Regions from separate parts of the Homo sapiens genome. Here region 2 is linked to region 1. A link means that fine-mapping ties the variant in region 1 to the expression of a gene that starts in the linked region. Tissue or cell type: whole blood. Region 1 holds a variant in brackets; the other region holds the start of a gene. All regions are shown on one strand. Distances are from middle to middle.

Region 1 (4,163 bases):
ATCTTCCCTCCCTGGGCACTGCCCAGGGCTTCCGGCACCTCCCTGGGGACCAACCAGGAGCCTTTATCCTCAGCCCCCAAATTGTCAAATTCTCACATCCATTTGTTCCTTAATTCCCCGGCAGTATTTCTTTTGTTGTCACCCCTCTGACAAAGTTCTCCTGAGGGCTCCAACTGCCCAACACAGTGGTCTGTTCATGCGCCATCCTAGCGACCACTGAACACCCTCTCATTTTGGAAACCTTCCCTCCTTTGCCCTGAGGTGACACCCACTTCCCCACCAATCCCTGGCTCTCACTGCAGCCACCAGTTTATTTTATTTATTTATGTATTTATGTATTTATTTGGAGACGGAGTTTTGCTCTTGTTGCCCAGGCTGGAGTGCAATGGTGCGATCTCGGCTCACCGCAACCTCCGCCTTCTGGGTTCAAGCAATCCTCCTGCCTCAGCCTCCCGAGTAGCTGGGATTACAGGCATGCGCCACCACGCCCGACTAATTTTGTATTTTTAGTAGAGACAGGGTTTCTCCATGTTGGTCAGGCTGATCTTGAACTCCCGACCTCAGGTGATCTGCCCTCCTCGGCCTCCCAAAGTGCTGGGATTACAGGTATGAGCCACCGCGCCCGGCCAGCCACCGATTTATTTTAAAATCCCAGAGCTGAACAGGTAGACATCCTGGCTTCCCCCAACTCCTCCGCCCACTGGCACTGCACCCCACACCCCTAAAAACCCTCTCCTGTGAGTCTGCACATGTGATAAAGTTTCATGGAACCAAACACACCCACACCCCCACACACACACACACCCCCAACACTCACACACCTGTGCACACACTCAGTGCACAGTTGTTTTTCTTTGCCTAAGCACCATGCTATTTTTGTCTCCATACCTTTGCACAAGTTGCTCCCTTTGCCCAGGAAGTTGTCTCTTCCTTGCTTGATGGACTTAAGCCCTTATTCCCCTCCCTGAAGGGTTGGTTCAGCCCCGCCCTGGTGCCACCAGACCACTTTGTATCTGTCTCAGTTGTTGTACTTACAACCTTGAACAATGGTCTGGTCTTTGGCTCGTCCAGAGCAGAAGCTCAAGCAGGCTGATGTGTGGGGTTGACTTACATTCCAGAGAGCGATGACATCCTTGCCTTATTGCCTGTCTTCCTCCCTGTAACTCTGAGCTGCTCCATTTTAGCTACAACTCATGACAAGCTGTGGAGGCTTCTAAACTAGCCAGATGTCTGAACCCCGCCACGACTGCGTGGGTCTGAGCTGGAACCTGAGTATTTGTGCTCTTTTAAAGTTCCTCAGGGATTCATGCATTTAAGTTTGGGTATATGTGTATATGTGCAAGTATATAAGTATGTATGTATCTACCTATTTATCTGTTCTTTCATCTATCTGTCCACCTGTCCATGCATCTATCTGTCTCTCGTCTATCATCCATCCATTTACTTCTCTCTCATCTATCTATCTATCTATCTATCTATCTATCTATCTATCTATCTATCTATCTATCATCTATCTATCATCTATCATCTATCTGTCTGTCTATCAATTATCTATCTATCTATCTATCTATCTATCTATCTATCTATCTATCTATCATCTGCCAGGGTTGAGAAGAATCAGAATCCTAGAAACCTGACACCATTTATGTTTTTTGTTTCTTTCCCCAACACCTAACCTAGTAACTGTCAGATAACAAAACATTCCTCCCTTTTTTTCTCTTTTCCTTCCTTCCTGCTTTCTTATATGTAAGTGCATGGATGAGTGCATTTTCCCCAGCTTGTCTCCTTCCCTCCAGCACAGACCCTCTCTGTTTCCTGCCCAGCCTTTTGGGTTCCAGTTCCTTAATCCCCAGGCCCACTTACCTGGAAGGATGAGAAGGAACAGGACCAGTGAGCACTACATGCCCCTGCCTGTCTGTGCTCTCTCCCTGGTGATGAGTTAATACCAGCTGCCCTCCAGCAACTTGTAACTGAACCCAGAGGCAAACTGCTTCCTACTTGTCTAAATCATTTTTTTTGTTTGTTTTCTCAACTGCTTCCTTTTTTTTTCTTTAGTTACTTCCTAAATTCATGAATTAAGAGAAACGTGGTGCTGTCTTTTTGGAGTGTGTGTGGTGTGA[T/C]GATACGTCTTCAATGAACTGGGGAAGTAAATGGTCCAGGCCTGGCCTGGGCTCCATCTGCAGCTGTCTGTGATTTAGGAGCATCTGCCAACAACACAGGGCAGGGAGTACAGTAAGGCTCAGAGCGTGGACGGAAGGGATTGATGGAGGCACGCTGGCTTTGCCTCAGAGCGTAGAGGGAAGGGATTGATGGAGGCGCCCTGGCTTTGTCTCAGAGCGTGGAGGGAAGGGATTGATCGAGGCGCGCTGGCTTTGCACTTTGGGAAGAACACAGCACAGTGCTCCCATCCAGCCTCGCTGGAGAAACAGCCTGTGCCCCAGGCTCTTTCCAGGCAGCCCCACGGCAGGGCATCTCAAACCACCCTTCCAGCCCTGGGCTGTTATCTCTTCTGGAGCCTGACTCAGTGCTCCTCTCTAGGAAAGCTTCCTCTGGGGTCCTGAGTCACTCCAAACTGGAGGCTTGTGGTAGGTAGTTGGGGAAGGGGAAGTTGCCTTTTTTCTCTAGCCCCACTTTGCCCTGGTTCCTTCCTCCCCATCTCTGCACATTTTCCCTGCAGTTGGCTTTTGGCCAATCTCACTGCACCGAAACTGCTTGCTCTGTTGATCCCCAAAGTGACTTTCCCAGACTCCCCCCTCTTCCTTTAGATGGTCCCCTCCCTCCTCTGTCACCTGCTCCCTCTTCCTCTCCTCCTTCTTTGCTGAAGCCCCTCCTTGCTCTCACTGCCTAATCCATTCCTGCCCCCACCACCCTGCATCTGCAGGAGCCTGTCCTGATGCTCTCCTCTGGAGCCCTTCTCTCCAGGGAGTGTCCTCACCTGCACTCTAAAGTCACCTCTATGCACAAGACTGTCAAAAGCAGTTTGTCACCTGATTTCCTGCCTCAGTGCTTGGCTGTCATTTCCAGTGCCTATTGGTTGTTTCATAGAGATACCCACTTTGTTAACAGCTCAGATGTGCTCAAAATTAAATTCCGTGTCCTCTTCACTCTAAGATTGGTCTATTACTGTGCCTGGTCCATGGCCCTGGGGCTTCCCGACTCCCTGCTGTGTTCCCTCCTTAACCCCCTGTCAGTTTAGCCTTCCTAAGACAAAGCCCATCATATCTTCACCTGCAAAGGGCTTTGCAGGGGTGGGGGATTAGAGGCAGAGCAGCAGAAAGCTTTGCCAGTGGGAGCAGAGGAGGGCGTGGTGGGTCAGTTCTTGGGGAGGAAGTGGAGGAGGCCCCTGAGCAATATCTGTTTATGTTTGTTTATTTATTTATTTTTGAGACAGAGTCTTGCTCTATCACCCAGGCTGGAGTGCAGTGGTGTGATCTTGGCTCACTGTAACTTCCGCCTCCTGGGTTCAAGCAATTCTCCTGCCTCAGCCTCCCGAGTAGCTGGGACTACAGGCATGTGCCACCACACCAGACTAATTTTTGTATGTTTAGTAGAGACGGGGTTTTGCCATGTTGGCCAGGCTGGTCTTGAACTCCTGGACTCAAGTGATCTGCCTGCCTTGGCCTCCCAAAGTGCTGGGATTACAGGTGTGATCCGGGCCTTCTGTTTATGTTTGAAGCTGCACCTTCTCTTGGGATTTTGGAGTGTCTTGGTGAGCCCTGGTGCTGCTGCCTAGAGCCAAGAACGCATGGGAGGGGGCAGGACTTCAGGGACCATAGACAGACTTTCTTTCTTCCTTCTTTCCTTCCTTCCTTCCTTCCTTCCTTCCTTCCTTCCTTCCTTCCTTCCTTCCTTCCCAGTTTTATTAAGGTATAATTGGGATAAAATAAACTGCACATATTTAAAGTGCACAATTTGAAACACTTTTCTTGTTGTTTTTATGATTTTTTCAAATGTATTATTTATGGGCATTCAGCTAGTTTCAAGTTCAGGGCCATGATGCATAGTGTGCTGTGAACATTTTAGACCATGCCTTTGGCGGGCTTCTGGTACCCTCCTTAGCAGCTTTTGAAGGGATCCCCATTCCCTCTATCTGGAGAAAAAATTGTGCCGTAGATCAGGCTGATATGGTTTGGCTGTGTCCCCACCCAAATCTCATTTGAATT
Region 2 (4,163 bases), 24 kb before region 1:
ATGGCACAAGGGTTGCTATGGTTTGAATGTTCCCTCAGAAACTCGTGTTGAAACTTAACTGTCAATGTAATGGCATTGGGATGTGAGGTCTTTAAGAGGTGATTAGGCCATGAGAGCTCAGTCCTCCGAGTGGATTAATGCTGTTATCTCCGGAGTGGGTTAGTTATTGTGAGAGTGGTTTCCTGAGAGGCTGAGTTCAGTCCCCTTTTTCTCTCTGTCTAGGAGGCTTGCCTGCTGTCTTGTCTTCTGCCATGGAATGACGCTTGTCAGATGCCACTACGATGCTCTTGGACTTCTCATCTTCAGAAAGCTAGGAAGGTGAACAAATTTGTTCTTTTTTATTATTATTATTTGAGACAGAGTTTCTCTCTGTCGCCCAGGCTGAAATGCAGTGGCGTGATCTTGGCTCACTGCAACTTTCGTCTCCTGGGTTCAAGCAATTCTCCCACCTCAGCCTCCTGAGTAGCTGGGACTACAGGCTCATACCACCATGCAGGGCTAATTTCTGTATTTTTGTTAGAGACAGGGTTTTGCTATGTTGGCCAGGCTGGTCTGAAACTCCTGACCTCAAGTGATCTACGTGCCTCGGCCTCCCAAAGTGCTAGGATTACAGGCATGAGCCACTGCACCTGCCAACTTTTGTTCTTTATAAATTAGCTAGCCTGTAGTATTCTGTTATAGTAGAAGAAAATGGACTAAGACACAATGTTGTGGCTACTGTCAGCTCTGCTCATTCTGGATCCCTCAAGTGTGTGGCTCATGTCACACATGGGACCAGGGTCCTGGTGTTTTATTGTTCCATCCAGGGCTCTATTCTATATATAATCTATCTATCTTTCTTTCTTTCTTTTTCTTTCTTTCTTTCATCTTTCTTTCTTTTTTTTTTAGATGGAGTCTCTCTCTGTTGCCAGGCTGGAGTGCAATGGTGTGATCTTGGCTCATTGCTTTGCAACCTCCACCTCCTGGGTTCAAGTGATTCTCCTGCCTTGGCCTCCCAAGTAGCTGGGATTACAGGCACGTGCCACCATGCCTGGCTATATAATACTTCATCAGATATGGTGGTACAGAAAAGATAAGAAGTTGTGCTCTTACAACAAAAGTTTGAAATATCAGATGATCCAGTAGAGTTCTAAAAGATAGTAAAGATTAGAGGCTGTGGGTATCAAAGATGGGTATCTCTGGGGAAAGAGAAGGAAAGAAATTATATTTTCAGATAGCTATGTCTTAGAGAAGAGTATCTTCTGATGTGCAAGTTGGATTAGAGAGAATGTATAGCTAGTGGAGGGACCAGATGAGAAGCTATTTCAATGGTCCAGGACTATTCTAAAGGTATTTAATATTAACTGGGCAGTTACTATGTTCCAGGCACTGTATCAAGCACTTTACTTACATTAACTCATTTATTTCCTGTGGCAACCCTTTGAGAAAGAATTGTCATGAGTACTCTATTTTACAGATGAGGAGACTGAGGAGGAGAGTGATTTGGCAACATGCCCAAGGTCAGATGATTAATAAATGATGGAGATGAGATTTGAGTTTGTGTGACTTCAGAATCTATGCTGTTGACCATGACCCATATACTGAACTAGGTTAACAGTGTATAACCAGGTGGAGCTTCCCTATAGGAAGTTAGAAAGTAGGATCTGGAGCCCAGGAGAGATATTGGGATATTGGGTTAGAGGAAGAGGTGTGAAGTCATCCGCATGGAGATAACGGTTGAGAAAGACATGGGGAGTGATCACCACAGCTCCTTAAGTAGAGGGTGTTTTATGATTCAAAAGTAGGCAGCCATAGAGAAGGGAAGCTCCTTAGATCGATGAAGTAATCCCAGATAGGAAGAAGAGTGAAAGAGGCAGGGAACAGAGTTTTCTCTGTTGGAGAGGTTTCGTAAACTGGGACTGACTTTCATGAAATTCCGAGTCATGAAATCTCAGGGGGTGACTCAAACATTACGTTCACATTAAATGAAGGCCAACAGATTTTCCTGTTTGTGCTTGGTCCATTCTCAGAAACGTCTCTTGCCACCCTTTCTCTTCTGCTAAGTAAGGCTTAAAATTAGGAAGCATTCTTTAAAAGGCAAAAGAGGAAATAGATGAGTGAGAACACAAAGGAAACTTGGACAAGTAGAAAGTGGATGACCCAGGCTCCGTTACATATACTTGGATTCCAGCTGGGACCTAGATTTGCTGAGGACGGAAGCCAAGGAGACAGGAACATGTGGCTGCTCCCAGCTCTACTCCTTCTCTGCCTCTCAGGTGAGTGGGGCTGTGGCTTTGGGGACTTGGTTTTGCAGGGGGCAGGACAGTAGGTAGAAGAGCTGTCCTGGGTTCAAACCAGAGGTGAAGTGTCCACAGAAAAGGGAAAGATACATCCGTTCATTCACCTGTGCATCCTTCTATACATTCAATCATTCATCCACGGATCCTACAAACACTTACTGAGCACCAGATATGTGCCAGGACTGTTCTGGGTGCTGTAATTAAGAGTAACTTCTGAACTGAGGGAGTCAACTAACTACAATACAATGTGGAAATTACTGTTGTAGAGACTCATTCATGTGGTGATGAGAGTATGCAACAGGAACCCCTCACTTTGCTCTTGGAAGGGTGGGAGATGTCACTGAGGCTTCATTGGAAGTCCATCCTGCAGGATGAATGAGTTGGCTGAGTGGGAAAGGAATAGCTTATGTGCAAGTGTGAGGACATTAAAGACCATGGAGAGTTCAAGAATTAACAATAGTTCTGTTTTGACGAAGCTTAGTGTAAAGGGGTTGGAATGGTTTGTGAGAAATAATTAATGGGCTGGGCGTGGTGGCTCACGCCTGTAATCCCATCACTTTGGGAGGCCAAGGTGGGTGGATCACCTGAGGTCAGGAGTTTGAGACCAGCCTGGCCAACATGGTGAAACCCTGTCTCTACTAAAAATACAAAAATTAGCTGGGCGTGGTGATGCATGCCTGTAGTCCCAGCTACTAGGGAGGCTGAGGCAGGAGGATCGCTTGAACTTGGGAGGCGGAGGTTGCAGTGAGCCGAGATTGCACCACTGCAGCAGTCTGGCCTGGGTGATAGAGTTGAGATCCTGTCTGAAAAAAAAAAATGCCATCCTCAACATCTACCTTAAATCCTTCCCGGAACAAGGTGTGGTGTAAACAAGTAAATGAAACTGTCCTGCAAAGGTTGGACTTCAGAAGAGAAACTCTTATTAATAGACATTCAAAATACAAAACTGCAGGAAAACACATTTGTCTCTGGGGAAATAAATTTAGGCTAAAAATTAGAGGACATTCTTCATGTTTGCAGAATGAATTTTATGGTTGAGTTCCCTCACAAAACATAGAAATTGCCCAATGTAATGACAAGATTCTTTCTAGAAGGGTGAGTGAAAATGACAGCGATTTAAAGGAAGAAGACCAGGTAGGTGACATGGACCCAAACTCGTGGGCTCAAGCAATCCTCCTCTCTTGACCTCCCAAAGCACTGGGATTACAGGCATGAGCCACTGCACTCAACCAATGTTTGCTCATTTTGTATTTGAATTTGCTTCCTTTTTCTTTGCCCTTTCCATCTCTCTTTCCACCCCTATCTCATTCCCCATCCTCAGACTCGCAATGTGACCTGCGCAGGTCCCTCTGAAAATCTTAACTGGGAAAGAGAGATGGAAAGGGCAATTCTAGCAGGGAGGGGAAATGACAAAGAGGAAGGAAGCAAATTCAAATACAAAATAAGCAAACGTTGGTTGAGTGAGGTGGCTCACACCTGTAATCCCAGTGCTTTGGGAGGTCAAAGCAGGAGGAATGCTTCAGCCCAGGAGTTTGAGATCAGCCTGGGCAACATAGCAAGACCCCATTTCTACAAAAAAAGAAAAGTAAAAAATTTAAAAAGAGCAAAACTAGAATTCTATTTATTACACATTTTTATAACCTATAAACACTTCCAAATAGATGATAGAATTTAACCCTCTGAGCAGTTTTGTGACCCAGGCAGGGCAAATAGCATTGACTCCACTTTATAAATAAGATGATGAAGGGAGATCTGATGACATAAGAACTAAGTAGACAAGCTGGAAATGAAGTCCAGATCTGTGTCCTCCACAGAGCTCTTTCCATTGGCCATGGAGGTGTCAAGAATAAGGCTAACCTAGTAATAGTGACAAAATAGCTGACC

What was found. PIP is the estimated chance that this variant, and not a neighbour inherited with it, causes the effect.
Region 2: it holds the start of CD300E, and the variant in region 1 is fine-mapped to the expression of CD300E in whole blood (TOPMed, PIP above 0.99).

Annotation. Positions count from the first base shown.
Region 1 is chr17:74,597,649-74,601,811 of GRCh38, reverse strand. LOC101928343 (a long non-coding RNA gene) reads right to left here and starts at 1,972. Exons shown (of 4, transcript NR_158152.1): 1 at 1,864-1,972. The variant T/C (reference allele first, on the strand shown) is at 2,121.
Region 2 is chr17:74,621,674-74,625,836 of GRCh38, reverse strand. CD300E (CD300e molecule) reads left to right here and starts at 2,099. Exons shown (of 4, transcript NM_181449.3): 1 at 2,099-2,255. The coding sequence starts at 2,216. It overlaps LOC101928343 (a long non-coding RNA gene), which reads right to left. Exons shown (of 4, transcript NR_158152.1): 4 at 1-310.